Homo sapiens: one gene and its partners. The protein of the gene in region 2 purifies or fractionates together with the protein of the main gene of each other region. This does not show direct contact. Each region holds a gene or a part of one and is shown on either strand. Other genes may lie near its edges. The genes, in order: CNOT11, RC3H1, CNOT1 and CNOT7.

Region 1 (7,217 bases), on a different chromosome or scaffold from region 2:
CACACTTCTGGAATTGCTTAGTGTCACGTGTGTCCATATAAACCACCTAAACAGGCTTTGTGTGAGCAACAAGGCTGTTTATTCACTTGGGTGCAAGTGGGATGAGTCCAAAAAGAGAGTCAGCGAAGGGAGATAGGAAAGGGCAGCTTTATAGGGCTTGGGTAGGCAGTGGAAAGTTACAGTTAAAGGTGGTTATCTATCGTCAGCAGAGGAGGGGGTCACAAGGTGCATGGTGGGGAGATCATAAAACTCATTGTCCAGAAGAAGAATGTCACGAGGTCAATTGATTAGTTGGGGCAGGGCAGGAGCAAGTCATAATGGTAGAATGCCATAAGGTGGATTAATTAGTTAAGGCAGGAACTGGCTGTTTCACTTCTTTTGTGGTTTTTTGGCTGCTCCAGACTTCTTGGCTCCTGCAGGCCATCTGGACGTGCAGGTCACAGGGGTTACAACGGATGAGCTTTGGCTCAGAGGCCTGACATTCCTGTCTTTTTACTTATAAAATATAAAGTTATAAGAAAAGATAAAGAAAACATAAGTTTTTACTGGGGATTATTGGGGTAGGGGTTATGTTAATCAGGGCTGCTTCTGGCATGACTTAGGGGCGACGTGGACACCTAAAGAAAGTTTAATTTTATAGTGAGTTGGTCTAGAAAGTTTTTAGGTACAATTCTGTGTGGCTAACAAGGCACCAGTTAGCATATTTTGAGCTTGAAATTGTCCTAATAAATTCTCTAAAAACAGCAAATAAGCATAATAGCGTTAAGGTAGGTGTCAGTGAGTTTCTATGCCAAGGTAGGAATAATGTTTTAGGTACCAAAGCCTTTTGTCCCCATTTTCCATCATATGAACAGGATTCCCTGTTATTTAGGCAATGATCTATTATATTACCCTTTTCCTATAGGTGTGAGTGGTGGTCCAGATGGAGAAGTTCAATAGTTCTGATTGCAGATCCTATGCAGGAGAGATAATAATCTTTGTCTCCTGGGTTAAGCTAAGGCTGGCAAAGAGACAAATGTCCCAAGCCTTCTAACAACCAGTGGCATAGTTTATGTTGTCCTGGATGCTGGTCTGGTTGCCAAATATGGGGAAGGAAATGAGGGGCTATATAGGAGGCAAGCCAGAGGCTTATATCCTACGTGGTAATGGTCATGAAGGGAAAAGAAAAAAGAAGCAAAAAGCAGCCCAAGAAATCACTTATTTTCTAACAAAGAGCAGCCTGAAAGATCGAGCTGCAGACATAAATAAGGAAGCTGGAAGCTTGCACAGGGTGATGCCAGCAGCCACACAGACACAGCAACCTGGGGCCATGCGTGTCCACCATGGGGGCTCCACCTTCCCTTTTTTGTTAGCATGTACACAGTAGGAAAGAGATCAGTCACAAGAATAGCTACCTGCCTGCATAATAAAAGACTGGGGTGGGGGCTGCCAGAGATTCACACTCTATGCAGATGGCACACCTAGTCCTAACCGGTTTTCTTTTTGAGACAGAGTCTCTATCACCCAGGCTGGAGTGCAGCAGCACGATCTCGGCTCACTGCAACCTCTGCCTCCAGGGTTTAAATGATTCTCCTGTCTCAGCCTCCCAATTACCTGTGATTACAGGTGCCCACCACCACGCCTGGCTAATTTTTTTGTATTTTTAGTACAGACGGGTTTTCTCCATGTTGGTTAGGCTGGTCTTGAACTCCCGACCTCGATGATCCACCCGCCTCGGCTTCCCATGTTTTTTATTTTTTTTTTAAGATAAAATAAAATGTTCAAATATTTTTGAAACATCTTGGAAAAAACCCACACAGCATTAGTATTACTACATTAATAACTGGCAATTGGTATAATTACTACTATTAAATAGTATTAGAACTGCAGGAAAATTACAATAACAAATAGACCCATAGACCACCCAATGTAAAATGGCTTGCACAAAATACAGTTTATTATAATAACAAAAATTTTTTTTTGAGACAGTCTCACTCTGTCGCCCAGGCTGGAGTGCAGTGGTGAGATCTCGGCTCACTGCAACCTCCACCTCCCAGGTTCAAGCCATTCTTCTGCCTCATCCTCCCAAGTAGCTGGGATTACAGGCATGAGCCGCCATGCTCGGCCAATTTTTATATTTTTAGTAGATTCGGGGTTTCACCACGGCCAGGCTGGTCTCAAACTCCTGGCCTCAAGTGATCCACCTGCCTCGGTCTCCTAAAGTGCTGGGATTACAGGCATAAGCCACCTTGCCCAGGCCCTATAATAAAAAATTTATGAGAGTACTTTTGAGCTAATTTGAATCAGTTCCCCAAGTTACCACATTATATCTGCTGCTGTTAGGAACGTTAATTGGCAGGATCTTTCTGAAGTGCAATTTAGCAGTAAATTGAAGAAGCCTTTAAAATTCAGTAGATATCACACCTGTTGACCCAGCAATTTCTCTTCCTTAAATTTTTCATAAGAATTGAGGTAGCAAACCAAATATTACACTTCTAAGTGGGAGCTAAGTTATGAGGATGCAAAGACATAAGAATGATATAATGGACTTTGAGGACTCTGGGGTGGGAGGGGGTATACGTGGGACAGGGCTGAGGGATAAAAGACTATATTTTGGGTACTGTCACGCGCGTCCGTGTGGAGACCACCAAACAGGCTCTGTGTGAGCAATAAAGCTTTTTAATCACCTGGGTGCAGGCGGGCTGAGTCTGAAAAGAGTCAGGGAAGTGAGAGAGGGGTGGGGCCATCTTATAGGATTTGGGTGGGTAGTGGAAAATTACAGTCAAAGGGGGTTGTTCTCTGGCAGGCCGGGGCGGGGGTCATAAGGTGCTCAGCGGGGGAGCTTCTGAGCCAGGAGAAGGGATTTCACAAGGTAATGTCATCAGTTAAGGCAGGAACCAGCCATTTGCACTTCTTTTGTGATTCTTCAGTTACTTCAGGCCATGTGGATGTATATGTGCAGGCTTGGGCTCAGAGGCCTGACAGGTACAGCGTACACTGCTCTGGTGACGGGTGCACCAAAGTCTCAGAAATCACCACTAAAAACTTATCCATGTAACCAAAAACCACCTGTACCCCCAAAACTACTGAAATACAAGTTTTAAAAAGATGAAAAAAATTTTTTTTACATAAAATATCTTTCTCCCCAAAAACACATAAAATAAAATAAAAATATGTTTTAAAAAAGAATTGAGGTGGCTCTTAACTAGATAATTAGAATCGCTGGTGGTAATCACTGGCGAAATACGCGTACGTTTCTGTAGGTTTAGGGACCGGGCAAGTCTGGGAAATGCCACCTGGTGGTTCTCAGCCCAGACTACACCTCAGACTCACCTGAAGAGGTGGGGTTTATTAATATCTCAATCAGCATCTCTGGGGGTGGAACTAGGTATTTGTAACGTCTCCCCGTGGGTTTCTAATGCACAGCTAAGTGCCCAGGATAAGTGCCCTAGGGCAATCTAAGTAAAACGTGGCACAGCAAACAATTTTGTAAATGAATATTAACTGGAGACATGTTCTCGAAATCATGTTAAGAGAAAAAACCATGTACAAAAAAGCTCATAGTGCAGTATGATTCCATTTCTGCAATGAGTGTAAGACTAGAAATTAACCGTGGTTATGTGAAATGTGTGGTATATTTGCATTTACTAAATTAAAAAAAATGTTTCTGAGACAGAGCGCCCGGGCTGCAATGCAGTGGTGATCACAGCTCACTGCAGCCTGGGACTCCCGGGCTCAAGCGACCCTCCCGCCTAGGACTCTCAAAGTGCTGGGATTACAGGCACGCGCCACCACGCCCGGCCTGCATTTACAATACTTTTTACGACGAATACTTACGGATGTTATATTAAGAAAATAGTTAACATCTGAGGTGCATTCTTCCAAATAATAACGTAGACAGCACTTACTGGGACCGTCTGGCACCAGGAACCGTCCTGGGGACCGCCAAAGGGCGGCTTAACCTCGCAGCTGCGCAGACGCATGCAGTCCCCGGGCTCTCCTGCCGCGGGACCTCGGCAGACCTAACCCTGAACGCCACCAGCCCGACCTCGCCCCGCCCCTCCCCTCCCTTCCCGGGCCCCGCCCCCGCTTCCTGCCAATTCGCCCCGCCTACCCCGCGTCTCCGCATCCTCTTCCTGGCTTCGCTCCATCAGCCTCGCTTTCGCTGGGCGCTGTCCCTCTCCGCGGCGGTCTGGTTTCCCCGACGTGTTTTGTTTGCGACGCTGTCGTGTAACAGCGCGCTTTACGGCCGCGGGGACGGAGCGAGCCGGCGCCAGGGCCCCTCGGGCCGGGAAGAGGGGAAGGGGAGCGAGGTTGATGCCCGGCGGAGGGGCGAGCGCGGCGTCTGGCCGGCTTCTCACCGCCGCGGAGCAAAGAGGGTCCCGGGAAGCGGCAGGGTCGGCGTCCAGGAGCGGCTTCGGGGGCTCCGGCGGCGGCAGAGGCGGAGCAAGCGGCCCCGGGTCCGGGAGCGGAGGCCCGGGGGGCCCCGCGGGCAGGATGAGCTTGACCCCGAAGGAGCTCTCGAGCCTGCTGAGCATCATATCGGAGGAGGCGGGCGGCGGCAGCACCTTCGAGGGCCTGTCCACCGCCTTCCACCACTACTTCAGCAAGGCCGACCACTTCCGCCTGGGCTCGGTGCTCGTCATGCTGCTCCAGCAGCCCGACCTGCTGCCTAGCGCGGCGCAGCGCCTCACGGCGCTCTACCTGCTCTGGGAGATGTACCGCACCGAGCCGCTGGCCGCCAACCCCTTCGCCGCCAGCTTCGCGCACCTGCTCAACCCCGCGCCGCCCGCCCGCGGCGGCCAGGAACCCGACCGCCCTCCGCTCTCAGGTACCTCCTGAAGCCAGCTGTGCCGTGTGGATAGCGTTAGATTCCGCAGCTTTCCACCTGCGCTGCTGGGAACTCACCTGAAAGGGAAATTAACTATCCCTGTGAAATGATCATCCTCTTTTTCCGCCTCTCTCTGCGTTCCCACGCCCCTCACTCCTCCCCGCCTTAACTCTAAAGAATGGAGAGGTGGTAGCTTAATTGCAAGTTCGTGACACCGAAAATGATTTCTCTATACACCCCATCACATCATACAGCTCAGTGTAGGTCTTGACATGTTTAGTGTCTCAAATACGGTTCGTTCTTCGAAAACCCGTCTGTGGTGTGTGAAGTTAAAACCAATGATAAGACTGGATCTGTCCCCGGTTTTTAGTCTCAAAGGAGTACGTGGAAGTCAGTATTAAGAAGCTGAAGAAGTTGGTGGGCGGAAATACACATGAAACACCTTAAAGACTTTGCAGCCGCCTTTCTTAGCCTGTTAGGGATGGGGGCAGAGGATAGAAAGTCTCAAATTGATGATCTCGCGTTTGGAAACACATGACTTACTGGACATTATGTAAAGTGCATACGTGGTATACATTATGTAAAATGTATTTACTATTGTGTGGCATTGGTGAGATCAAACTAGTAGGTTAGATGCGAGGCTGCATTTTTTTTTGTTTTTAAGCTCAAGCAGGTGATGCTTTATGTGGATTTGCTTTGCGAGAAGACTTGCAGTCAGAAAACAAGAAAAATGGCATGTTGACAACGGGACCTGAAGGATTTAGGAACCAGTGTAGTGGAGGAAGCACACAGAGATAGGAAACAGCTTGATCTTACATTCCTTAACCAGTATAGGTAGGGCCTGCTATACAGTGAGTCAAGGCTAGGCAGTAGATTTTGAAGTAACACCAGGAGTTTGTTTTTATGGTACAGGAGGGCCGCGTTTCTAGTTAGTGTTCCTGCCGGGCATCCCATCAGGATCTTCTGATAGGTGTCCTGTAGTGCCCTTATCTAAGAAGGGCAACCCTTTGTATTGGCCTGAGATGCCTTTAGGGTACAGGTACTTAACCTGCTTCTAAGAAGCTTGTGACTGCCCAGAAAGTGAATGTAACACAGGTTTGTGGTCAAAACTCACCACCTAGGCCTGGCTAGGTGGCTCACGCCTATAATCCCAGCACTTTTGGAGGCCGAAGTGGTGGAGGTTGGGGGGTGGGAATTGCTTGAGGCCAGGAGTTTGAAACCATCCTGGGCAACATAGTAAGATCCTGTCTTTACAAAGCAATAAAAAATTTGCTGGGCATGGGGTGGCTAACACCTGTAGCCCCAGCTGCTCAGGAGTTTGAGGCAGGAGGATCACTTGAGCCTAGGAGTTTGAGGCTGCAGTGAGTTAGGGTGACAGCTTCTAAACACACACACACACACAGACAACCACCACCCTAGGGTGCTTGTATTAGAGGATTGGGACACTGGGATTTAGATCAGAGGGCCCTTTGAATTCTGAAGAACAAGTGAGGCAAAGAAACCGTGACTTATATAATGTCATTCTCATGTACAGTGAATCTAAACCCACACCTAGTCCGTAGACCGCATTATACACACAGATTTGCCATAGGTGGGATGGCAGTCACCAGAGAAGGAATCCATGGATGGATTATATTTAACCATTTTGTGCCTCAGATTCCTCATCTGTAAAATGCAAATAGTAACAATTCCCAGCTGGTAGAGTTGTTACAAAGAATAAAAGTACCTGTGAGTGGGCTGGGCGCGGTGGCTCACGCCTGTAATCCCAGCACTTTGGGAGGCCGAGGCGGGCGGATCACAAGGTCAGGAGATCGAGACCATCTTGGCTAACACGGTGAAACCCCGTCTCTACTAAAAATACAAAAAATTAGCCGGGCGCGGTGGCGGGCGCCTGTAGTCCCAGCTACTTGGGAGGCTGAGGCAGGAGAATGGCGTGAACCTGGGAGGCGGAGCTTGCAGTGAGCCAAGATTGTGCCACTGCAATCCGGCCTGGGCTAAAGAGCGGGACTCCGTCTCAAAAAAAAAAAAAGTACCTGTGAGTGTTACCCACTATTATACCATTATTAAAGTAGGTAGGGATGGTGTGTAGATAACATAGAAGAGAAAATATCAGTGCCTACACTCCACTCCCAGAGCTGCTGATATTGTATGTTTAGGGTAAGACATTTAGTGGGTATGTCTTCAGAATGCTTTTCAGATGACTCTGAACAGAGGCAGGGCTGCGATTGTGTAATGCTGGGTAGTTAAGAGGAAGGAACGACCACCTGTGGAGCTGGAGAAATTCTCAGGAGTGATATTTTTTGCTGGATATTGATTAGGGATGCAGGAGGGAGGGCAGGAGTAGCTCTGCCAGGTATTATTAAAAAACTGGGTGTAAGGCCGGGTGTGGTAGCTCATGCCTGCAATC
Region 2 (5,882 bases):
TAAAATAGTATCTTTCTCTTTTCATGTATTTTCATTTGGGGGAAAAAAAATCTCTTTAATTGTAACCTGAATTCAAGCTGTACCCCTCCATGGTCCTACACTCTAGAGCTAATCTGGTTGGGCAGAAAGGCAGAAGGATGGTATATTGTCCCATTGTGCCTATAATGTATTTTAAATTGGTCATTCCACCTTACCTAATGGAAATTCTTGCAGCTTTCCTAGTGCTCATCAGCGGTTTTAGGAATTCACTAACACCCCCAAAATTTGTTTTTTGTTTTTTGCTTTTTTTCCTTTTCCTTTTCTCTGTGATATCATGAGCCTGTAAGGACAAATGGCATATTTGGGCATAACTGCTTGACTCTGTAACTACTTTTTTAAAATCAAAATTGAAAAGGTATTAATTGCTTCTGGCTTTTTAATTTTTTTTTTTAGAGACAAAGATGAAACCAGATAGGAAATACAGTTTTTATGTTTTCTACTTACTAAAATATTAGTTTCTTCTAAATATTACTTTATTTGTATTTCACTAAATTCCAAAGCAAAAATCAGATATCTGAGATGAACAATTTTGAATGGGTTAAGGTAGGAGTAATAAGCATTGTGTTCACTCATACATAGGTGAGGGAATTTTATTTATAGCGAGAAATATAAAAGTATTTTGACTTACTCTTTTTTCAAGGAGTCGCTAGGAAAGGGTAGAAGAACTGAGAATAAGACATCTAGATTCCATTTCTGGTTTATATGTAGCTCTTTTGCCTAATTTATATATAATTTTGTCATAAGATAAGTCCAGTAACTGTCCTGTCTTAGATAACGTACAGAGGCTGAAGTGACCAAAGATCCATTCCTTATTACTTTTCTAATTAAAAGAAGAGTTAGCTAGATTTCTAGTAGTAGTATTCTAGATATTGATAAGACATTATTCCTAATGCCAACTACAAATATTCAACTACTCAGAATGTATTTAAAAAATTGTTTGGTACAGCATTAATGTTGGTGATTCCTTTCTCCCATCTTATTTCCCTTCCCTTCTATTCTTTCCCATGTATTTCTTTTGCCTAAAAGAATATTGGTATGATTCTCATTTGCTACTTTGAGTATATAACTCCATCAGACTTTCCAGAGTTCTTCAGGGATGGAGCTCAAAGTTTACATTTTTCCATATATGTCTTTTTTTTTCTTGACCTTTTTCCACCCTGTAATTTCCCCTTGACTTACCCACTGCCCTCCCCAATCTGCAACAGTGACAGTTTGCTGCCTCAAAACAGAGCATTCAAATGAATTCGCTTAGCCAATAACTTCTGTGAAGTTGCCTTTTCTAATGGTGTTATTACTCAGTGATGCACAAATGTGGTATTTGCCCTACTGGTAGGCAAACAAAGGTCTGGTTAAGAATGGTAACCTGCTGTTTTCTTTAAAGGAGAGCCAAAGACTTGTGCTTTACTCTGTTTTGGTTTTGGGGGAAGTAGTAGCCATTTTGATCATGAAACCTTTTAGTATTTGTGAGTTGATTGTACTGTGTAAGTAGATTTATCTAAAGTTAACTGTTAAAGTTAGCTAGCCTTATAAAATGTAAAAGTAATGAAAATTCATCAGTTTCTCTAAGCCAGTGAATGTCGTCTTTTGTAATATTGTGTATAAGCATTTGTGCCCACCCCAGCTTCTGCTATCACTGTGGTCAAGTCATGGGTCTGAGTAAAAGAATTCTTGAGTATGTGACTGGTGAGAAATAACTAACTATAGTCAGTACATGTACAGATTGTTAAAATTCAAGACAAAATACTTTCACTAAAAAAAAGGATTCGTCTCAGTAAAGAAGTATTCAGTTGCTGTCACTTACATACAAATGGTGGTGGGTAGCAGTCTCACCATTTTTCTACTCTCTTTTTGCTCGTTTTAAATAATTGAGTAAAGGTTTTATTTGTAAAATCTATCTGTAAAAAGCACCTGTAACGATTTATATGTCATTGAAAGGAATGGCCCAGTTACTTTTTAGGAGAGATTAATAACCTACCTGGAAATTAACTGCAGTGTTTACTTAGATTTTTTCCCCCTAATAAGAGTCTAAGTGTGTTAAATTTTTAACTGATGATATGGTTACAGTGTTGCAAGGTGATCTCTTCCCCTGAAAAATCTGCCTATCCTTTTAAGAAAAATTAGACCTACTAAACTAAAGCAAATTTTACTTTCATCATTAGCACCTAAACAAGCAAGCAGTCTACTACTGTCATCATTTTACCTGAGTGCCCATTTTGCTGATCCACATTCATACCTTTCTACCTTGGACAGCTATGATTTTTATATTTATTTGTTGCTTCAGCTCAGGTTTATGAAATTTTCCTGCTGAAATGACTTATTGGGAGTTGTAGGTTGATTATAGTTACTATTAAACATTTTCTCAATTTAGCTTTTCTGAGCCACTTCAAGAAGAAAGCTGTTTTTGTCAAAAGGTACTATTAATTGTAGCAAGTAAATCTTAAGATTTGAATTTTTAAGATTTTATTTCTGTGTTCACTAAAGATCTTTCCACAAGTAATAGATTATAATTGATAAGTAATACTAGCTATAGTGTTAATAAAGAGTAAGACTATCACCACCAGGAATAAGTAACACCTTTTAATAATAAATCTATTCCTAATAGGTATGTTTTCAATACTGCACTGAACAAAGTGGGTAAAGAGCCCTTTGAAATCTTATTGTAATAAAGGGACTTACCTCACCACTGGAATCCTTGTTTTCAGAGCCTCTGGATTTTCAGCCAAACACTGAATTTCTCCTAAACTTTATCCCTGAAACATCCCTAGAGAACGAACTTTATTTTCACAAGAAAATAAGGCACAATAAGGGGGAAGAACTTAAACCTCAACATAATATCGTGTCCAAAAATGTGTATTTAGAAAAATAAAATCCTGTGGAGTTTGTTATCCTAATGTTTATTTTATACTAGATAAGGTGACTTGTTTTCTTGTATTGAGGTCTTACTGTTTCAGATTTGTTTTTGTTTCTGTTCTAACTCTAAGCAGACAGAGCTCACAAGTCTTTGGCATCCATTTTAGGTTGTACACTCAGAGTCATCTTATAACTGGAAACTGTCAGGTGGTCCCCCACCCCAGTGAGTGTATGAAAGAGTCAAGAAAAAGATTGGAAACAAACTATTGGGTGAATAATTGGTTGCTCTATTATTATTATTATTATTATTTGCCTTTTTTTAATCACCATTTATTTGTGTAATCTTTCTCCATTGATTGGCTGTCATTCTTATAATATCTGAACTACCCCATAAAATAATTCTCTGACTTAAAGGCATTTAGCTTTTGCTTATCGTTTTTACATCCTCTATTCAACTAAGACACTGTCTTGAGAGTTATTTTTTCCAGATGGATCGTTGGCCTAAATTTTCACACTTCTCCCCTGTTCATCCTTTTTCCTCTTCCCTGCTTCCTGGGAATAAAAGGAACTTTTTTAAAAAAATTAATTAGTCCACAGGTCTCATTATCTTTCTTTATGATTAATCTATGACTTTTTGGTACAAGAACAATGGAAAAAGTGAATTAAGGTAATGAACAAAACCTTTCACCCACTTAAACATTTTCCAGTTTTGAGATTCCTCTTCGTGTTTGTGGTGTCTTCCCCTTGTTACCCCTTCTGCCCTTTTTCTCTGACTATGGTAATTTGGTCTTTAGGCTCATATCAGTCTCCCCGAGACATTCTGCAGTCATTATCACCTTTTTGGGTGGATTTTATTTTGTTTTATTTTGTTTTTTTTAAAAAAATAACTTTTTAACATTGGTGCATATTTGCTTGGGATAGAGCTTGTGTAATTTACCAATCGTATTGATTGTAAGTGATTGTGCCCTGCAGAGGTATATTTAACAAGACAAAAATAATCTTGGTTAATAAAGGAGCCCATGAGATTTGAGTCAGGTTGTAAGTGAAATCACTTACACTTTTGGATAGAATTTATACTCCTGCTCTTATAAATCAGTGGTAGACTTACCATTTTTTAAAGTTTTCTTGCATTTTTTTGTTTTTTTATTGCCACAGCTCCCTATTCTTTCTTGCCTGCCTCCACCCCCCTGTTCAGGAAAAAAAAAAATTGAGCCTTAAAGTGACAGCTGATTTTTTAATTGCTGAATTTTGTGAAATTTTACTTTTTCCAAGTGTTTCCAACTTTAAAAAGAGAAGTGAAGACAAATAGGTTGGAATGGTGAAGACAAATGGATTGGAATTTCACAGGCTGTGAATAATTCCTTAGGATCTGGCAAACCGTGAAGTCTTATTTGAAGACCTTATCTCCTGAGAGTTCTTTTGGAGTAGGAAAAAGAACCCTATTTGAAATAGACCGTTTTTCTCTTGTTTTTAATCTGTTTAATATTTCTGATTTTTAAGCAGCTTTCAAAACAAGTGTGGTGGAAAAAAAGAAATAGTAGTAGGAAGATGTTTAGGGCAGCAGAACTCTGGGTCTAAATAAGTACATGTTCCCACTTGTTGCCGATTTTTGAGAGTACTAGGGCCATCTTTCTCAATTTTGTATTATTTGTGTGCATGTTTATATCAAAGATGCCCATTTTGTTAAAATGCTATTTCCTTTATTACCTTGGAAACTGACTCAGCCTCATGTTGCTCCTAATTAGTGTTTAAGGCTCCCATGAGTTGCAGATAAAATGATTTATTTTAACAAGTAGAAGGAGGTGATTCACCTTTTGGATTGTAAATATATGAAAATGTCTACAAGGTCTTTATCTGCTTTCTGTCAGCATTTATATTAAATGATAAATTAATGAGGAACGTGTGTATTTTGTAAATGAGTGTGTGCCATCTTATTCTAATCTTGAGATTACTTTCTTACACGTTTTTAATGGAGGGGGCTTTTTTAGGTGAAAAATAAAGAAATGGCTAATCTGCATGAGCAAACACATACTTGGAGTAGCCAATTTTGTGTGGACATCACAGGAATTAGTCCAATCTTAAATAAGCTACAGTCATATTCCTTCATTTGTCACACAGTGATTGCACATTAGGAGTGAGGGTAGTGGTTCTGAGATACTAGCATCAATTCAATGAGATTCAATGGCTAACATCCAGTGTCTCGGTTTTTATGGCGCTTCTGAAAATTAGGACCATCTTTATGCTTAAGTGAAAAGGACTTGTCATGGTAACTTCCTGATGCAAAATGTTTTTTTGTCTTTCCATTTTTTTTTTTTTTTTTTGAGATGGTGTCTTGCTCTGTTGTCCAGGCTGGAGTGCAGGGGCACAATCTCAGCTCACTGCAGCCTCTGCCTCCCCAGTTCAAGCAATTCTCTTGCCTCAGCCTCCCAAGTAGCTGAGAATATAGGCCTGCGCCACCATGCCCAGCTAATTTTTACATTTTTAGTAGAGATGGGGTTTCACCATGTTGGCCAGGCTGGTCTCAAACTCCTGATGTCAAGCGATCTGCCCGCCTCAGCCTCCCAAAGTGCTGGGATTACAGGCATGAGCCACTATGCCCAGCCTTGTCTTCCCATTCTTGCTGACTTCTGATTGTCCTGAAATCCCCACCCATTAGTCATTCCTCGAAGTTAGTGGATATAAGTAAGTTTGTCTAATAGAGACCATACGTTAGTCAACACCTCAATGGCATGAAGAAGAAAAGGGAGGAGGTTGGGTGTGGTGGCTCGTGTGTGTAGTCCCAGCTACTCAGGAGGCTGAGGCGGGAGGATTGCTAAAGTCCAGGAGATCAAAGCTACAATGAGCTATGATGCTTGATCGCACCACTACACCAGCCTGGGCAATGGAATGAGACTCTATTATTCTAGATTAAAAGAAATGTAAGAAGTACAAAAATCAAATGCAGCATAGGTGATTTTAGCAAACCAAATACACAAAAGACTTTTGTATACAGG
Region 3 (8,108 bases), on a different chromosome or scaffold from region 2:
GGCATGTGCTACCACGCCCCACTAATTTATGTATTTTTTTAGTAGAGAAGTGGCTTCACCATGTTGGCTAGGCTGGTCTCAAACTCCTGGCCTCAAGTGATCTACCTGCCTTGGCCTCCCAAAGTGCTGGGATTAGAGGTGTGAGCCACCGCGTCTGGCCTGCTTTACTGATTTTAAGGCATGTTCACAATAAACTGATAAGGTGTCTAGGATATTTTTGTCTTAAAAGTGAGGAAGCTGTTAAGACTGTTTCAAGATCACAGCTTGTTCATAAGTAGAGTCAGAACTTAAAATGCATTTGCCAAATGCACTGCATTTTCTACTATCCTGTCTGTCCACATCAACTTTCAAGTCTTTTTCCTTCTATTCCCCCCACCCCCCCACCCACCTCCATTAATAGACTGCTTCCCCACAACAAAGAGAAATGATGGATCAGGCAGCTGCTCAATTAGCTCAGGACAATTGTGAGTTGGCTTGCTGTTTTATTCAGAAGACTGCAGTAGAAAAAGCAGGCCCTGAGATGGACAAGAGATTAGCAACTGTAAGTGTTTAGAATTTGCCTTTTAAGATTTTCTTTTTTAATTTAGGGAAGTGCCTTATAACAAGAACCTCAGTGACTTTTTTTGTTTGCAGGAATTTGAGCTGAGAAAACATGCTAGGCAAGAAGGACGCAGATACTGTGATCCTGTTGTTTTAACATATCAAGCTGAACGGATGCCAGAGCAAATCAGGCTGAAAGTGAGAATTGGGGCTCTGTCTTTCCCCGTCCCATCTTTGTTTTATTTTTAATGTTGTTGTTGATTGAACTCCTTACTGGAATTAGGACAGCAGGGTTAAATATTGTTTATGAGAAAACATCTTAACTTGATAGCATTTCACTGAATGGCTGCCTGTGGAGGAGGTATGGAAATAGCTCTAAATTCCCTTGCTCCTCCAGAGTTGTTGAAGTGTTATTACTCTAAGGAGTTCATGTGCCTGCTAGTTTTCATGTTTCCCAACTTGGGCTTCTCACATTAATGGTTGCTTATTGTTCCCAGTGAGACAGTGAGAAATCTGATAATATTTACCAGCTTCAAGGGAGAATTGCACTGGCATCGTCCCATGTGAGGCATTTTCCAAGAGAAACTCTCAGTTAATTTATAAATGAGGTGACTCTTAGCAGGATTCAGGGAAATGAGAAGCCCTCTTCTGAACTGCATTTGTGTGTGCGTGCATGCTTAATCATGCTGTTATATGTTGTAATGACTCTTGTGTCCCTGAGCTTACCCACATGCAGACTTTCCACTTTCAAAACAGTTTATTTTGATTATTGAGTGAATTCTGTCAAAATAGGTTTTCTTCTTTCAAGGTTGGTGGTGTGGACCCAAAGCAGTTGGCTGTTTACGAAGAGTTTGCACGCAATGTTCCTGGCTTCTTACCTACAAATGACTTAAGTCAGCCCACGGGATTTTTAGCCCAGCCCATGAAGGTAAATGTGTTTTAGATTAAATTGAGTGTTTTGCCAATTAATTTAAATGTTTTTGACATTTAATATATGTTTTTGACTTGCTTCCTGGGAGAATAATTTACAGGGGAAAAAACACCTATAGTTTTTGAGTTGTAGGTATTCTTTGTGTCCAATTAAGTATGACATACAGGGGATTAAAGAAAAATTGACATGGGTGTGGGTGATTTAACTTTAATGTTCGGCCTAATTAGGGGAATTCTCATGGTAACATAATAACTTTCGGTTTTTTATTTTTAAATTTTATTATTTATTTTTTTGAGACAGGGTCTTTCTCTGTCACCCAGGCTGGAGTGCAGTGGCGCGATCTCAGCTCATTGCAACCTCCACCTCCCAGACTCAAGCGATCCTCCCACCTCAGCCTCCTGAGGAGCTAGGACTACAGGCGTGTGCCACCATGCTCAGCTAATTTTTGTATTTTTTGTAAAGATGGGGTTTTGCCATGTTGCCTAGACTAGACTCAAACTGCTGACCTCAAGTGATCGCCTACCTTGGCCTCCCAAAGTGCTGGGATTACAGGCCTGAGCCATTGTGCCCAGCCTTCCCATTTTTTAAATAAAAGAATTTTCTAAAATTTTCAAAGGTGTTTACAGAAAACTTGGAAATATAGGGAAAAATATTTTCCCCCGAACCGGTCGATAGTAAGTTGCTGACCTGATACCCCCATCGCTCCTGAATCCTTTGGTTTGTATTTCTTACAAAACCTTTTTCCTTTGGTTTGTATTTCTTAAAAAACCCTTTTCCTGTGTGACCATGGTACAACCATTAAGGTCAGAAATGAATACTAATAACCTTACTCCATCTAATTCATAGACCTCACTCGAGTTTCACCATGTATCCCAATAATGTATAGTAAAAGACCTGTTTTAGAATCACACATTTCTTCAGTTGTCATATTTTTAAAGTCTCCCTCAGTTCTAGCTGGTGTAGGTAACTCAGTTTTTCCTCATCTTTCATGACCATAACACTTCTGAATATTATAGGCTAATTATTTTCTAAATGACTTGATTTGTTTGTCCAGTGTATTCTCATGACTAGGTTCAGGTAATGTGTTTTTAAAAATAGGAATAGCTCAGAAGTAATGCTGTATTCTTACTCTATCCTATCAGGCTTTGACAGTTGGACTGAGTACTGTATTTTTCATGGTTTGAAACACTTACTTTCTTAGGATATAGAGGGCTTAGTAGATGGTACAAGTGGTGCTGCCCTCAGTCTGTCTCATTGTTACTAATGCTCTCTTTTATCACTTGATTATGCTGCTGTCTGCCAGGTTTTCCTCTCTCAAATGAAACACCTCTTCCCTTATGCCTGCCTTGTACTGTGCCACTTGATGGTATTAATTCTGAATAGCTCAGGAAGAAGGAAAAGAAGAGGCCCTCCATGTTTGAATGTAAAAATAAGAAAAAGGGAGTAAACATACTAGTAGACCTCTATTTGATACATGTGTCAATAAAAAACCTTAACATTCTTTTGTCTCTTGTTGGTTGTTTCCTTCTGTAAAACAGCAAGCTTGGGCAACAGATGATGTAGCTCAGATTTATGATAAGTGTATTACAGAACTGGAGCAACATCTACATGCCATCCCACCAACTTTGGCCATGAACCCTCAAGCTCAGGCTCTTCGAAGTCTCTTGGAGGTTGTAGTTTTATCTCGAAACTCTCGGGATGCCATAGCTGCTCTTGGATTGCTCCAAAAGGTTGGTTCTTAAGCTATTACTTTTAGAAAATGCTAGGTGTGTAAACATTTATTGACCTGCACCACCATCTACATATTTATGCAGTTATGCTTAAGATTTCATAATATAAATCAAGTTCTGTAAGTAGGTGATTTTTTTTTTTTCCAACGTAGAATGTAGTCATGGCAGTTTTGAATGGTAAACTTGGAAATCTTCATTTTTTTTCTTAAAGATATTCTGGAAATGTGATTTGAAGAAACTTTAAAAGGTAGCCCTTTAGAGGGGTGTGTGTGTCTGTGTGTGTGTGTGTGTGTGTGTGTGTAAGAGACAGGGTCTCTCTCTGTCAGGCTTGAGTGCAGTGATGTGATCATGGGCTTAAGTGAACCTCCCACATCACCTTCTCGAGTAGCTGGTATTACAGGTGCTCACTGCCAAGCCAAGCTAATTTTTAATTTTTTTGTAGAGACAGGTCTTGCTTTGTTGTCCAGGTCGTTCTCAATCTCCTGGGCTCAAGTGGCCCTCCCTCCTGAGCCTCCCAAAGCGCTAGGATTATAGACATGAGCCACTGAGCCCAGCTGCCCTTTAGATTTTGAGGGACAAGTTGATCCAATAATTTGGATCAGGGTAGGTAGGGAGCCCTGGATTTTAACTACAGCAGAGCCTTTTATGACAATGAAGAGCACAGAATGAACTTAAATCAGATAGAATTTAGAGTGTGTGTGATAGGCAACTGAAAGGGATGTTTGGAGAGTGGAAAGGACAGGGAGGCTTTGGAAGGTATTTGGTACTTGGCATTGAGATTTGGTTTCTGGCTGTGATAGTTGGGCCAAGCACTGTATTTTTCATGGTTTTGAACGCTTTCTTTCTCCCATAGGCTGTAGAGGGCTTACTAGATGCCACAAGTGGTGCTGATGCTGACCTTCTGCTGCGCTACAGGGAATGCCACCTCTTGGTCCTAAAAGCTCTGCAGGATGGCCGGGCATATGGGTCTCCATGGTGCAACAAACAGATCACAAGGTCAGTAGCCATCTTCGAAAAGTAGTGAGTATTGGACTGCGACTGCCTTTTGACATAGATAGTACTGTTTATGTCCAGGGGTTTCCCTTTTTTCTAGTAGGTAGGTCGGACACTTAGACTTCCTACTTCTGAGAGGTGAGAATTGTTAAGTAGTTGTTTTCCATCTGGTCTCTACCTTCTCCCCATGTTGGATATAGAAAACCAGTACCTTGTTTTGGGGAATAAATTGTAGGTCATTGTTTTAAAAGGTTACAGTGATTTCTCAGAAGTGGTATTCGTGTATAAGTATTTTAATGTCTTAAATGGAATACTCTGTATCCTAGGATTTGAAAGGAAAGCTTGGGCTATCTGTTCTATTTCATTACTGGCTGTTTTTAAATTTGGACACTGATTTGGAGTTGAATCTCAAGGCATTCTTAGTTTGGAGCAAATTTCCATTGAGTAAAATGGGCCCTTTTACAGTATGGTTAAGCCTATATGAGTAAAGATATTGAACTTTTTCTAGGTGCCTAATTGAATGTCGAGATGAATATAAATATAATGTGGAGGCTGTGGAGCTGCTAATTCGCAATCATTTGGTTAATATGCAGCAGTATGATCTTCACCTAGCGCAGGTATGGAAGGAATTTACTTGCACGGACAAAAGGACTCAGGGAAGTACGTTTGCTCTTAAGTGTTTTCCCTCTCACATTATGTTTTCTGTGTTGCCAGTCAATGGAGAATGGCTTAAACTACATGGCTGTGGCATTTGCTATGCAGTTAGTAAAAATCCTGCTGGTGGATGAAAGGAGTGTTGCTCATGTTACTGAGGCAGATCTGTTCCACACCATTGAAACCCTCATGAGGATTAATGCTCATTCCAGAGGCAATGCTCCAGAAGGGTGAGGATGAAATGCTTTGAGATCCCTGTGCATTTAGTAGTCTTCTAATATCTTTAGGAATGAATATGCAGACTTACTAACATTACTTGTTATAACTGCTTTACCAACCACATATGGGTGGGTAGCTTTGGTAAGGGCTAATATTGTCACTTGAAGTATGAAAGCCTAATTGACTGCCAAGTCTTCTTGGCACAGAGCAGTACATACGGTACCAGACTTAGTGTCAGAGTCCTATGTTTAAGCCCTGGTCATGCCACTTAAAAGCTTTCTGATTTTAGGCAAATTGACTTATCCTCCTTAAACCTATTCTTTATAGAAAATGGAAATAATTTCTCAAAGAACTATTGGAAATCAAGAGAAGTAACGTAAAGAAAGCATGGTACATAGTAGGCAAACAGTGAATATTTGTCGACTCTGAACATCAGTTTCATTTAAATGAACACGTTTTTTGGGCAAGAAGTAGCTTAACTGAGGGCAGTTGTTTGTGTGTTGTATGCTCATGAGCAAGCGGATAAGAGACTAAGTATAGTTTTGTTTCAGTGTGGAAGTGGTAAAGCGAAGTGGTAAACCACTCTGGTGGTTGCTGTTAAATAAGCAAACTATACATGCGTATGTCTGTAAAATCACAACTACGAGGAGACTGATTTTCACCCTTTATTTATTGTGCTAGATTGCCCCAGCTGATGGAAGTAGTGCGATCCAACTATGAAGCAATGATTGATCGTGCTCATGGAGGCCCAAACTTTATGATGCATTCTGGGATCTCTCAAGCCTCAGAGTATGATGACCCTCCAGGCCTGAGGGAGAAGGCAGAGTATCTTCTGAGGGAATGGGTGAATCTCTACCATTCAGCAGCAGCTGGCCGCGACAGTACCAAAGCTTTCTCTGCATTTGTTGGACAGGTAGAGCTTTTGGAAAGAAAGGTGCTTTTTATTCAACATAAGTAGGGTGTGATGCCTCCAATATTAAAGCTCAGTATTGCGTACATGTGGTCAGACAGTTACCTCCATACTCATGCAAACCCAAACTGTCATCATTATATGGTTAAATTACAGCCTGTTTTCTCATGGTTGATCACTAAGCAGTAAAGGCAACATTCCCTCCCACCGTTGGTTCTGTATATTCCATTTCAGTTGTCACAGCTACAAAGTACAATGGGTCAGATAATGAATAATAAAACTACCAAATGTATTTTTACTAGCACTGATGGGACTGTGGGCTAATAAATATGTAAAATTCTCACAGTAGCCCACATTAAAAAAAAATGACAAAACAAAAATGCTTATTTAAATGGTAGAGTGTTTTATTGTATTTTCTAATTTAAATATCTACCTAAACGTAGTGACATGTTCCTTTGGAAAATACTTCCCAGTATTTTCATTAGATTTGATGCAAGTTGGACTTTGACTTAAAAGGGTTAGGAACAAAGCACCTAACTGAAAATCAAGTTTGGCAGGAATGTTTGTGAATAGGATGAACAGGAAAAATGTCGGAACCGAGCCATAGTACCATTTAGCATTCGTTTTTTATTATCACTGGTTGCTTTCAGCGACTGTGAGGGAATCAGACACAATAAGTCCATGTGTCCTAATTTATAATATAACTTGGCAAGAGTGGTACTTTTCCTGAATTGACCTTGGAATTTCCTTTATTAGAACTGTTGTAATTTTTTTTCAGGGTGAGTTGTCTGCTTATTTCTGCAGATTGACCATTATATTTCTTCAAACTGAACCCAAAACTTTTAGGTATATTGCTAAAGAAAGATTACAAATTAGGTCTCTTTTCAAATTAATGACAATTGAATGTGGAAGAACTGACTTCAATTCTAGAAGTTATTTGAAACTAGGTTTACTTTTCAGCCAGGTGCTGTGGCTCACGCCTGTAATCCCAGCACTTTGGGAGGCCGAGGCAGGCGGATCACGAGGTCAGGATATCGAGACCATCCTGGCTAACACAGTGAAACCCTGTCTCTACTAAAAATACAAAAAAATTAGCCGGGTGTGGTGGCGGGTGCCTGTAGTCCCAGCTACTCGGGAGGCTGAGGCAGAAGAATGGCGTGAACCCAGGAGATGAAGCTTACAGTGAGCCGAGATTGCACCACTGCACTCCAGCCTGGGCGACAGAGCGAGGCTCCGTCTCAAAAAAAATTAAAAAAAAAAAAGAAATTAGGTTTACTTTTCAAAATGAATGTTACTCAGTAAATCATACCGAGTATATTTCTCCCCTAAAAGAATCCAGGGAATTACAAAGCATACCCTACTGAAAAGCTATTACTGCATGTTTTATAGTCTGATTTATAATTTGAATGGAAGAAATTGGAATCCATTGGTCTTTCTGATCATTGCTATTTCGTGGGTATGGATGTGGCACCTGTCTCAGCCCTTCCTGCTGGCTTATTTGCTCTCATTTCATCTTTCTCTTGAAAAAGATAGTGTATTATACTTTTCTGTGCTGTTTTGTATCCTTTTGAAAATTCTTTCCTTCTTGCGCTCCTCCTTGACCATAGTACTCAGTCCTAATATTCCTCACTCTCTGTTAGTTTTACAGATACCAGTGTAGACAAAAAGTCCCTTTGCCATGCTGGCATTCTGTCCCAGCAGGGTACAGTATTATCGTAGTCCAACCAGTTCAGTTGTCTTTACTGCTTATCAGGAACAGTTAAGTTGTTTCAAAAATTTCAAGATAACCTTGAAGTTTTTTTTTTCGGAACTTGGTTTCTGTGTTTAGTAAGTAGTGAACTGTTCTTCCTCTGTAGCCTTAATGCATATTTTACTGTTGTCTTTTTTTGTTTGTTTGTTTAAAGGGTTGAGGGGAACTAGCCAAATAACATTCCCACTGTGCTTCACTTCTAGTTCATATGTCATATAGTTTCTAATTTTTCCTTTCTTTTAAATAAACTTGTGTTTCCCACATTATTTTAACTTAATGTAACATTTTATTACATTAAAATACCTAGATCAGATTTGTATTTCCATTTGGTACTTACCTGTTGTACAAATTATTGATTTTTCTGGGGGTAGCTTGTTGGAG
Region 4 (8,134 bases), on a different chromosome or scaffold from region 2:
AACACTTTGGTTAAACACTTTTCTGTGAGTGTCATCTATGACAGTTATCTCATTTGCCGTGCATATTGTTGAGACTCAGATGAAAAAATTTACATAAAATTCACCTATTTTTTTTGTAGAAGACTGAGGTAGCTGAGGAGATAAGAATTTAAGGCAACTAAAAAGTTCACAATCATTAGAGAAAGGGACAAAAAGAGACTGCTGAAGTGGAATTTTCGGAATTATAAGGGGTTAAAAATTGTAAGAGTTGGAAGGGAGATGACAGAATGGGGTAGAGAAAGGTTACTCAGTAGAGCAGAAGAAAAGATACTTTCATGGCCAAAAAAAGATATTCACCTATTGAGCTTACATTTGGAGAAGAGACATAAAACGAAACATGAGGGAGATGGACAGCATGTAACAAGATATTGATATTCCTCATGTAACAAGTTTTTGTACTGTTCATAGGAAAAAACACACTGGAAATTCTTTCAACTTTTACACACCACACCTTTAGAATAACCAATCTGTCTGTTCGCACAAAAATCTTTTAAGTGTAAGTCGTACCACTAATTTAGGTAATCAGGCAACATATTGCCAGTATTGGGGCTCAGAAAACAATACCCCAAAATATTGCACTTTGGTAGGCTGATTACTTTGAATTAAAGGAGTCTGGAGGGCCTCAGAAGTAAAGCTCTCTCTGACCACCTCCTGCCCCTCTTTCTCCATTGAAGAAGTCATAGAAACCAGAATTCCTCCTCCCCTGGGCGGTATATTACAAACTACAACCCTTCTTCCCTACAAAAAATCTAGAAAGGTCACTTTCCCTTCCGCCCTGAAGACCCTCACTCCATATGAGCCCGGGCCGGTCCACTAGAGGAGTAGAAAGTTATACAGAGAAGCCAAGAAAAATCTGAACAAACAGGCCTTGGTGGGTTTCCCCTACCTCTGTCTATTACCATTACCATACTCTTTTTGTCCAATCACATTTCTACATGGCTGTCCATTCTTCATTGAACCTAATCATAAATACAGACAGTTTTCCTTCGGTCTCTGGGGCTTCATTTCTGAAGGCTCCCATGCAGTGTAAAACTTTGATTAAATAAATCTGTTATGCTTTTCGCTTGTTAACCTGTCTTTTGTTACAGGAGGGTCAGCTGTGCCCCTTATGACTGATGAGAAAAAATATCACACCTTTTCCATCTTTACATCAGATACCATACAGACAGATTATTTTTTACCTCCCAGCTTACAAATATATGTCATTATTTAAAAGGGTGGACTAACAAGAATAGGTGAGTGGCATTTTCCAGGATTGTGCCATTCTTTGAAAACTGGAAGCATATGACCTACTTAAGTGTCTCCGGAATTATTCGAGTATAATTTGTAAATGCGAAACATCTCAATAAAACTTCAAGTGTTTTTATAAAAGAACTTAAAACAATAAAATACTTAGTTATTTGTTCATAACACTACAAAATAAATTACATTATCTAATGTAATCATGTCCAATCATACGTTCATAATTTCTGGTTCAAAAAATAATACATAAAATGAATCCTTTCTGTATCCAACTCCGCGTATTTACTGATCCTCTTAAGCCAATTCCAGAACTCTTTACATTAACAATTGCTGCTATAGAATCTCACTTTATTTGGGAGGCCAAAATTATAAATTTCACATCAATTACTTCCCTTACTTACCAGCCTTAGCAGCAAGAGACTTTGTAGTATTTAAAAAATTAAACTCCAACCTCGAAGAAAAAAATTAGTCAGCATTGAAAATATTTAACATAATACTACATACTAAGGTTTAAAAGCAATTAATTCCAAAAGTGTGGTTCTAAAAAAGTGTTTCTGCAATAGCAGGACTGGTTTGGTATATAGTCTACCAAGGTAACAACTTCTAAGGGAACAAACATGTTAAAAACGAGTCCCCTTATTTTATAAGCATACCTTGTGAGAGTAGCTCTTAAAGGTCAGTACAGAACATGATTTGGAGTAAGAGTGACTTGTAAGAACTTTGCGAACTTAATTTTCCAGAATGAAAGCCACCAATAACAGCCTGCCATTCTTTTCTGTTAAACAGCATAAAATTTCACCTTTTGAAAGTTCTGAACAAACAGAACAATTGAGACAACGAACCAAGAAACACCTAAAGTTCAGTCAGCATCAGGCCTTATTTTAGCCAAACTGATTTTGCAGTAAATTTTTCTATTAACTAGACTATTTAATTAAAAATTATTCCATTTTAAATAAGAATTATTCGATATTATCTGAGGATACATATTTTTTAACTGTATGAAAATAATATTTTTAAAAGGGCTAGGAGCCCGGCGAGGTGGCTTATTCCTGTAATCCCAGCACTTTGGGAGGCCGAAGCGGGTGGATAATCTAAGGTCAGGAGTTCGAGACCAGCCTGACCAATGTGGTGAAACCCCGTCTCTACTAAAAATACAAAATATTAGCCGCGCATGGTGGCGCGCACCTGTAATCCCAGCTACTCGGAGGGGTGTGGGGAGCTGAGGGAGGATGATTGCTTGAATCCGGGAGACGGAGGTTGCAGTGAACCGAGATCGCGCCACTGCGCTCCAGCCTGGGCAACAGGAGAGCCGTACCCCCGGCAAAAAAAAAAAAAAAAAAAGGGGTTAGGGACTTAACAATGTTGTCATCTTTATTTAAAATAGTGTGAAACTGTTAAGTAAATATACTTGCAAAATGCATAAAATATAAAGAAGCAGTTCTAATTTTTGAAAACCATTAGAGACCATAGACATTTGCAATGTAAAAGGCTGCAGCAAACCAATTTACAGTAAAAGTTGAAATAATATGAATTGTAAAAATATTTCTAAACTGACCATGATAAAATGAAAAACTCACAGGAAGACAACAGAACAATCAAGATGAACATAAAGTAATTCTTGAGCGTGGGGACAAGACTATGAAAGAAGTGAGAAATGTACATGCACTGGTCGCTGTGAGATGGGGAGAGACTGCTCCAACAGGGTAAATCTTAGAGACTCAAGAAGACTGACTACGTGATAAGTGACTCTCAGACGAGAAGCATTCACTGATGAAAACTCTGGCTTCCCTTTCCTTTGATGTTGCAACAGTTCTATTTTCCATTCTTTGTGAAACCTGGAGATTACTCTTCACAATTGTATTTTAACAATTCTGCTGACGCGGCAATCAGGTGGGCAAAGGGAAAGATCAGTGGCGAAGCCTGGGCAGCAAGGGATACTGGAAATAGACTATGAGAGAGATTGAGAGATTACAGTCAGCAGCTATGTGTCAGGAGGGATGAGGAAATCCGAGTTAGAAGCGCTGAGCAGTGGTGCGGCAGGAGGCAGGGAGGGTCCGGAGGAAAACAGTAAAAGGGGGCAGGAGTGGCAGAGCAAGCGTGTGACCCACAACCAAGGGAGGTAAACCACATGAGGAGCTGGTGGGGAGCAGACTGAGGCGCTGTGAGGGTGGTTAGGACAAGCCCGCCCTCCCACCCTACTTTTTCCTCCGGTGGAGAGGCAGCGACCAGTCACCTGGAGTGTGAGTTCCGGAGGGACTCGATCAGGCGCTGCTTCTGCTGCTGGAGGCTGGTGAGGCCACCGGGGGACCCAGCCGCGGAGGAGGAGGCGCTCTTGGTCAGGGGAAAAAGCCAGCTCATCCTCCTCGGGTCCACGGGCCGGAGGCCCTGGAAGGCTCTGGCCTGCTTCTCCCAGTGGCTCGGCCCGGCGGTTCTCCAGCGACAGAGGAGCGGGGTGGGACGTCCGTGGCCCAAGCGCTGGGGACCGCGTCTTCTCTAAGCCTGTCCTGCCTGCGCTCCCCGAGTTCTGGGGGACATGCTACGAACGGCGGGCGGCTGGAGAGGGAAACTTGCGGCCCGGAACAGGAGGTCCCACCTTCACGGCCCAGACGCCCAAACCGGCCAGCCAGGGAGCCTGGCCGCCCAGCGCTCCACCACCCGCGCCGCCGTCACTTGCGTGCCCCGCCCCCGGGGGCGCTCTCCGCCCCCTCTGCGTGTCGCGTCATCATCTAGCGCCCCCGTCAGGACGTGCGAAAAGCGACGGCGCAGCACGGTGCGGCGCAGCTCCTGCTCGCCTTTCCCTTCGCTGGGCGAGAGGTGTCTATGGGGCACCCGCTGCCGCCGCCGCTACCGCCACCGCCACCGCCACCGCCGCCGAGTGCTGTCTCTATGGCGAGGAGGAGGAGGAGGAGCGCGAGCTCAGCGACACAAGTAGATCTTGCATCCGCTGCAGCCTTACGGGGGGAGGGGCGGGTTAGGGAAGTAGAAAGGGGGCGGGGACGATGAACCTGAGAGGGTGCGCGATGGCGCCAGCTGGAGTGCGGCTGGCGGAGGAAGGAGCCTGGCGGCGGGTTGGGGGCTGGGTAACTGGGGCTGGGGGTTTGTCAAGGGGTTGGCGCGTAGTGATGACGCAAAGGCTTTGTACCTGGGGCTTCGCAGTGGGACGGAAATTGGGAGTGGAGGGCGGTGGCCTAGATCCTCACCTCTTCGTATTGTTTCACGCGGCAGTGCTTGGGAGTCAGTGTAGCTCCAGTCAGTGTTATCAGCACCTTCGCACTGGCGCTTTGCCAGGGAAGAGAGTTATCTATGGCTTGAATACCTCGGTGCCGTCCTCTCGTTTCTCTGGGAAACTGCAGTACGGAGATGCTTTCTCCAGTAATGAGAAGGCCTTTGGTGTCTCTTCGGGGCTTCTGGGACTGCAGTAGAGAGAGAGGTGGAGGAAAACAATGTTAGACTACAGGGTCTTTCCAAGTCTTTGTGTTTTTGTGCTTATGTGTGTGTGTGTGCCTATCGGGGTGGGAGAGTTATAAAGGAGGGGTGTCCTGGATCTCCTTTAGTTTCTCTACTTGGAGAATTGGAAGTTACATTTGTGACTCTTCAGAGTTTAGAAGACAGTCATAAGACCCTCTTTTTACTCTTGTTTTTTTTTTTTCCAATTTGTATGAAAAATGCAGAAGGATTTGAAATTTCCCTGCCCAAGAATCAACAGGAACTCTGTTTATAGACCAGAAATGTGACATCTATCTTTGGTAACCATGCAATATGCTCTAAGTTTTAGACGTTCTATTGTGTTCTTTTTCCGTTCTGCAACTGCGAACATTCAGATAATTTTCATGGCCGTTACTTTTTTCTCAGAGCATTTACAAACATTTTTGACCCCTCTAGTCTAGTTAGAATAAACGCCGGTAAAGTAGATCTTGTTATCAAGTCGGATTTTGGTTGTTTTATTAATGAGGAATAAAAATAAACACCATCTTTGCCATGGTAACATCTGATCTTGTCACATGTAAATAAGTAATTTTTCATTTTTTGTCTGGAAATGGATGGCTTTATAAAGTTTTATGCAGAGTAGTTGAACTCAGATAAATAATTAGTGGAAAGTTATAAAATATGATTAGTATGTATGTGTAAAAAAGCTATTTTAAAATAACTGAAATTAGGACCAGGAAATCTGTACTGTAGTCCTTTTTTTCCTATAGACTAGCTGTGTGACCTTAAGTTACTTTCTAAACTTTGATTTTTTTTTTTTATGAGTCAAGAACTTTGAATAAATAACTTCTTAGGTTCCTGCTGGATCAATTATTCTGTGATTCAGATTTGATATATCTGGTCTTCATATTGTTTTTTTATTTTGACAGGTACATAAATAAAGGATAAAATATTTTATGAAACAAATCTTCAATCAAGTATAACATTTTGATGCTTGGCATCTAGACTCCCTTGTGCCCTCACTATGCCAGCGGCAACTGTAGATCATAGCCAAAGAATTTGTGAAGTTTGGGCTTGCAACTTGGATGAAGAGATGAAGAAAATTCGTCAAGTTATCCGAAAATATAATTACGTTGCTATGGTATGCCCACAAGCAGATCTTTAAAACGCTTCATATAAAGGAGGAAAAGGAAATTTTAAAGTCTTGAATTCAACCCTTTTGGTTGATATTTTTAGGGATTAATTTCACCATGAAAAGTAAAATTTGTCACTGCCCTCCAGCCAAAATCCATCAGGAATACACCTGTGATTTGACAGGTTGGGTTTATCCCTCATTGCAGTGAGGGAAAACGCACTGGAATTCATGGGAACCATGGGCCGTTTGAATAAGAGTTAGGAAGGATTTGGGCTCGTGTCAGGTGGTCTTAGGGGAAGGTAAGGGAAGCAGAGCTTTACTGTGGATTGGATGTGTTCGGGAAGCTGGGGTAATTCTGTGATTGGGTATCTTACTAAGTCTTAAATGAGAGACTAGAATGAGGTTAAAGCTGCAGAGAAGGAACAGTCATTCATTTAGCCAGGATGGAGATACTTGGTCATTTTGTGGTTTGACATTTTTATTTTTTTGTCCTTGTTCAGACATGATTACAGAGTGGCCTTATTTGAGGTTGAACTTTTGTGAAATTGTGTTCAACAGGAGAACATTAGGGCGTGGCTATGAGTGCCAGGTCTGCTCCTAGCAACACCAAAGCCTAGCTGGTAGTACCACATGAGCTCCCAGAAGCTAGGGTGCTCTTTCTCAAACAAAAAAATCAGATGTGCCAGTGAAACGTTGTTGGTCTGCAATTTGTTTTCATAATTAACACTGGAGTTCTGTGAATATACTGTGTTACTAAGCAACTCTGCTTTTGCACGTGCTGTTTGGTCTGCCTAGATTGTCTATCCAGTTAATGATTTTTCTTCTTTACCATTATACTGTCTATATCTGTTAGCTACCCTACTGTTTTCTACATCCACTGGATTATTATTAGCTCCATAAACCAAGTGTTTTAATCCTTTCTCTCCCAACACCTAGCATAACACATATAGTATTCAATAAAGTGGCTGTTGAATTGCACTGAATTTAGAGAAATATTGATTTCTTTACTATTTCATAGTGACTTGATAGGTAGTTTTTATTCTTAGCTAGCCCTAGTTTGAATTCTAATACTAAACCGATGTATCTTTGTCTCAGTATTTTTAATAAAAATAAACAAATGCATTACTTTGGGGAGGAGCAAGTTGATTGGTTAAAATATGACTGTTTCTTTGTAGATGACATACTATTTGATAAAGGTGTACTTACCCATGATTAGAACTAAAATTGTTTTCTTAACCAATGGAAATTCATAGTGATCATTGATTTCTCAGATGATAAAGAGTGGCAACATAGAGAAGTGATAACATCCTACAAGAGTGAGTAGGTGGCATGCAATTCTTGACAGCATGCTTTCTGTGGACTATAGAGAGAATATTGTTTAAGCCAGAGAAATTAGGAAGCTAATGATGTTTTTCTTAGGGTTTTGGTGTTGAGAAAAACCTTGTGTCAGAGAAGCAATTGGAAAGTACAGGGCGTTTTCCCCTCTTTTGAACCAGTTCTTCAAGAAACTTGGTTTTAGCATTGGAATACTGTGAGCATCATTTCATGTATCCTTTGGGAGACAGGAATTTATGATTTTCCCCCCTTTCTTGGTTATAGAGTAAGTATTTGGTTAAATTTATCACATGTATCTCGTATAGTAACTTTTTGGATATATTTAAGGAAAGGTTATTAAGTTTATAGAGTTTTATGGTTCTAAAAAGTGATGTTCTTTCTAGTTAAAATATACTTTGTAATTGAATATAAATGTGTAGAATATCATCTGTAGGATTCTTTGATTTGCATCAAAAATTAAAAATGTGTGGATTGTAGTTTTGACTGTTTAGTACATAATGAATCTTAAAACTATTTTACAGGACACCGAGTTTCCAGGTGTGGTTGCAAGACCCATTGGAGAATTCAGGAGCAATGCTGACTATCAATACCAACTATTGCGGTGTAATGTAGACTTGTTAAAGATAATTCAGCTAGGACTGACATTTATGAATGAGCAAGGAGAATACCCTCCAGGAACTTCAACTTGGCAGTTTAATTTTAAATTTAATTTGACGTAAGTGGGAAATAACTGTATAACCCAGACTTTTTTTTTTTTTTCTTTAATCTTAGGAATTGATTTTCCTCAAGTATGGTGACATGCTAGGTGAATTTGGTGTAGTTATCCTGGAAATATATAAAACGTAACATTTCAAAAGCGTGGTTTTCTTTTTTACTATGGGACCAAAAAAAATACTTTGATGTTAAAGATGTTATATTTAAAATATGACTGCAGCTTTTTTTGTATTTGGAAGACTG

The links.
Region 1: the proteins of RC3H1 (region 2) and CNOT11 purify together in Homo sapiens (affinity purification with mass spectrometry, with the first as the bait; 4 studies listed by BioGRID). This does not show direct contact.
Region 3: the proteins of RC3H1 (region 2) and CNOT1 purify together in Homo sapiens (affinity purification with mass spectrometry; 5 studies listed by BioGRID, with this or other methods). This does not show direct contact.
Region 4: the proteins of RC3H1 (region 2) and CNOT7 purify together in Homo sapiens (affinity purification with mass spectrometry; 5 studies listed by BioGRID, with this or other methods). This does not show direct contact.

The regions. Positions count from the first base shown.
Region 1 is NC_000002.12:101,248,669-101,255,885, forward strand, and holds the start of CNOT11 (CCR4-NOT transcription complex subunit 11), read left to right. Parts: upstream 1-4,217; 5' UTR 4,218-4,296; coding exon 4,297-4,810; intron 4,811-7,217. UniProt on the Homo sapiens protein: Component of the CCR4-NOT complex which is one of the major cellular mRNA deadenylases and is linked to various cellular processes including bulk mRNA degradation, miRNA-mediated repression, translational repression during translational initiation and general transcription regulation.
Region 2 is NC_000001.11:173,930,120-173,936,001, reverse strand, and holds the end of RC3H1 (roquin-1), read left to right. Parts: 3' UTR 1-4,918; downstream 4,919-5,882. UniProt on the Homo sapiens protein: Post-transcriptional repressor of mRNAs containing a conserved stem loop motif, called constitutive decay element (CDE), which is often located in the 3'-UTR, as in HMGXB3, ICOS, IER3, NFKBID, NFKBIZ, PPP1R10, TNF, TNFRSF4 and in many more mRNAs.
Region 3 is NC_000016.10:58,534,861-58,542,968, reverse strand, and holds part of CNOT1 (CCR4-NOT transcription complex subunit 1), read left to right. Parts: intron 1-400; coding exon 401-541; intron 542-633; coding exon 634-738; intron 739-1,348; coding exon 1,349-1,468; intron 1,469-3,009; coding exon 3,010-3,201; intron 3,202-4,054; coding exon 4,055-4,197; intron 4,198-4,702; coding exon 4,703-4,811; intron 4,812-4,908; coding exon 4,909-5,078; intron 5,079-5,748; coding exon 5,749-5,980; intron 5,981-8,108.
Region 4 is NC_000008.11:17,242,750-17,250,883, reverse strand, and holds the start of CNOT7 (CCR4-NOT transcription complex subunit 7), read left to right. Parts: upstream 1-4,026; 5' UTR 4,027-4,209; intron 4,210-4,288; exon of another isoform or gene 4,289-4,726; intron 4,727-4,952; exon of another isoform or gene 4,953-5,027; intron 5,028-5,636; 5' UTR 5,637-5,731; coding exon 5,732-5,848; intron 5,849-7,261; exon of another isoform or gene 7,262-7,442; intron 7,443-7,698; coding exon 7,699-7,892; intron 7,893-8,134. Other genes in the region: VPS37A (vacuolar protein sorting-associated protein 37A), read right to left, coding at 3,515-3,639. UniProt on the Homo sapiens protein: Has 3'-5' poly(A) exoribonuclease activity for synthetic poly(A) RNA substrate. Its function seems to be partially redundant with that of CNOT8.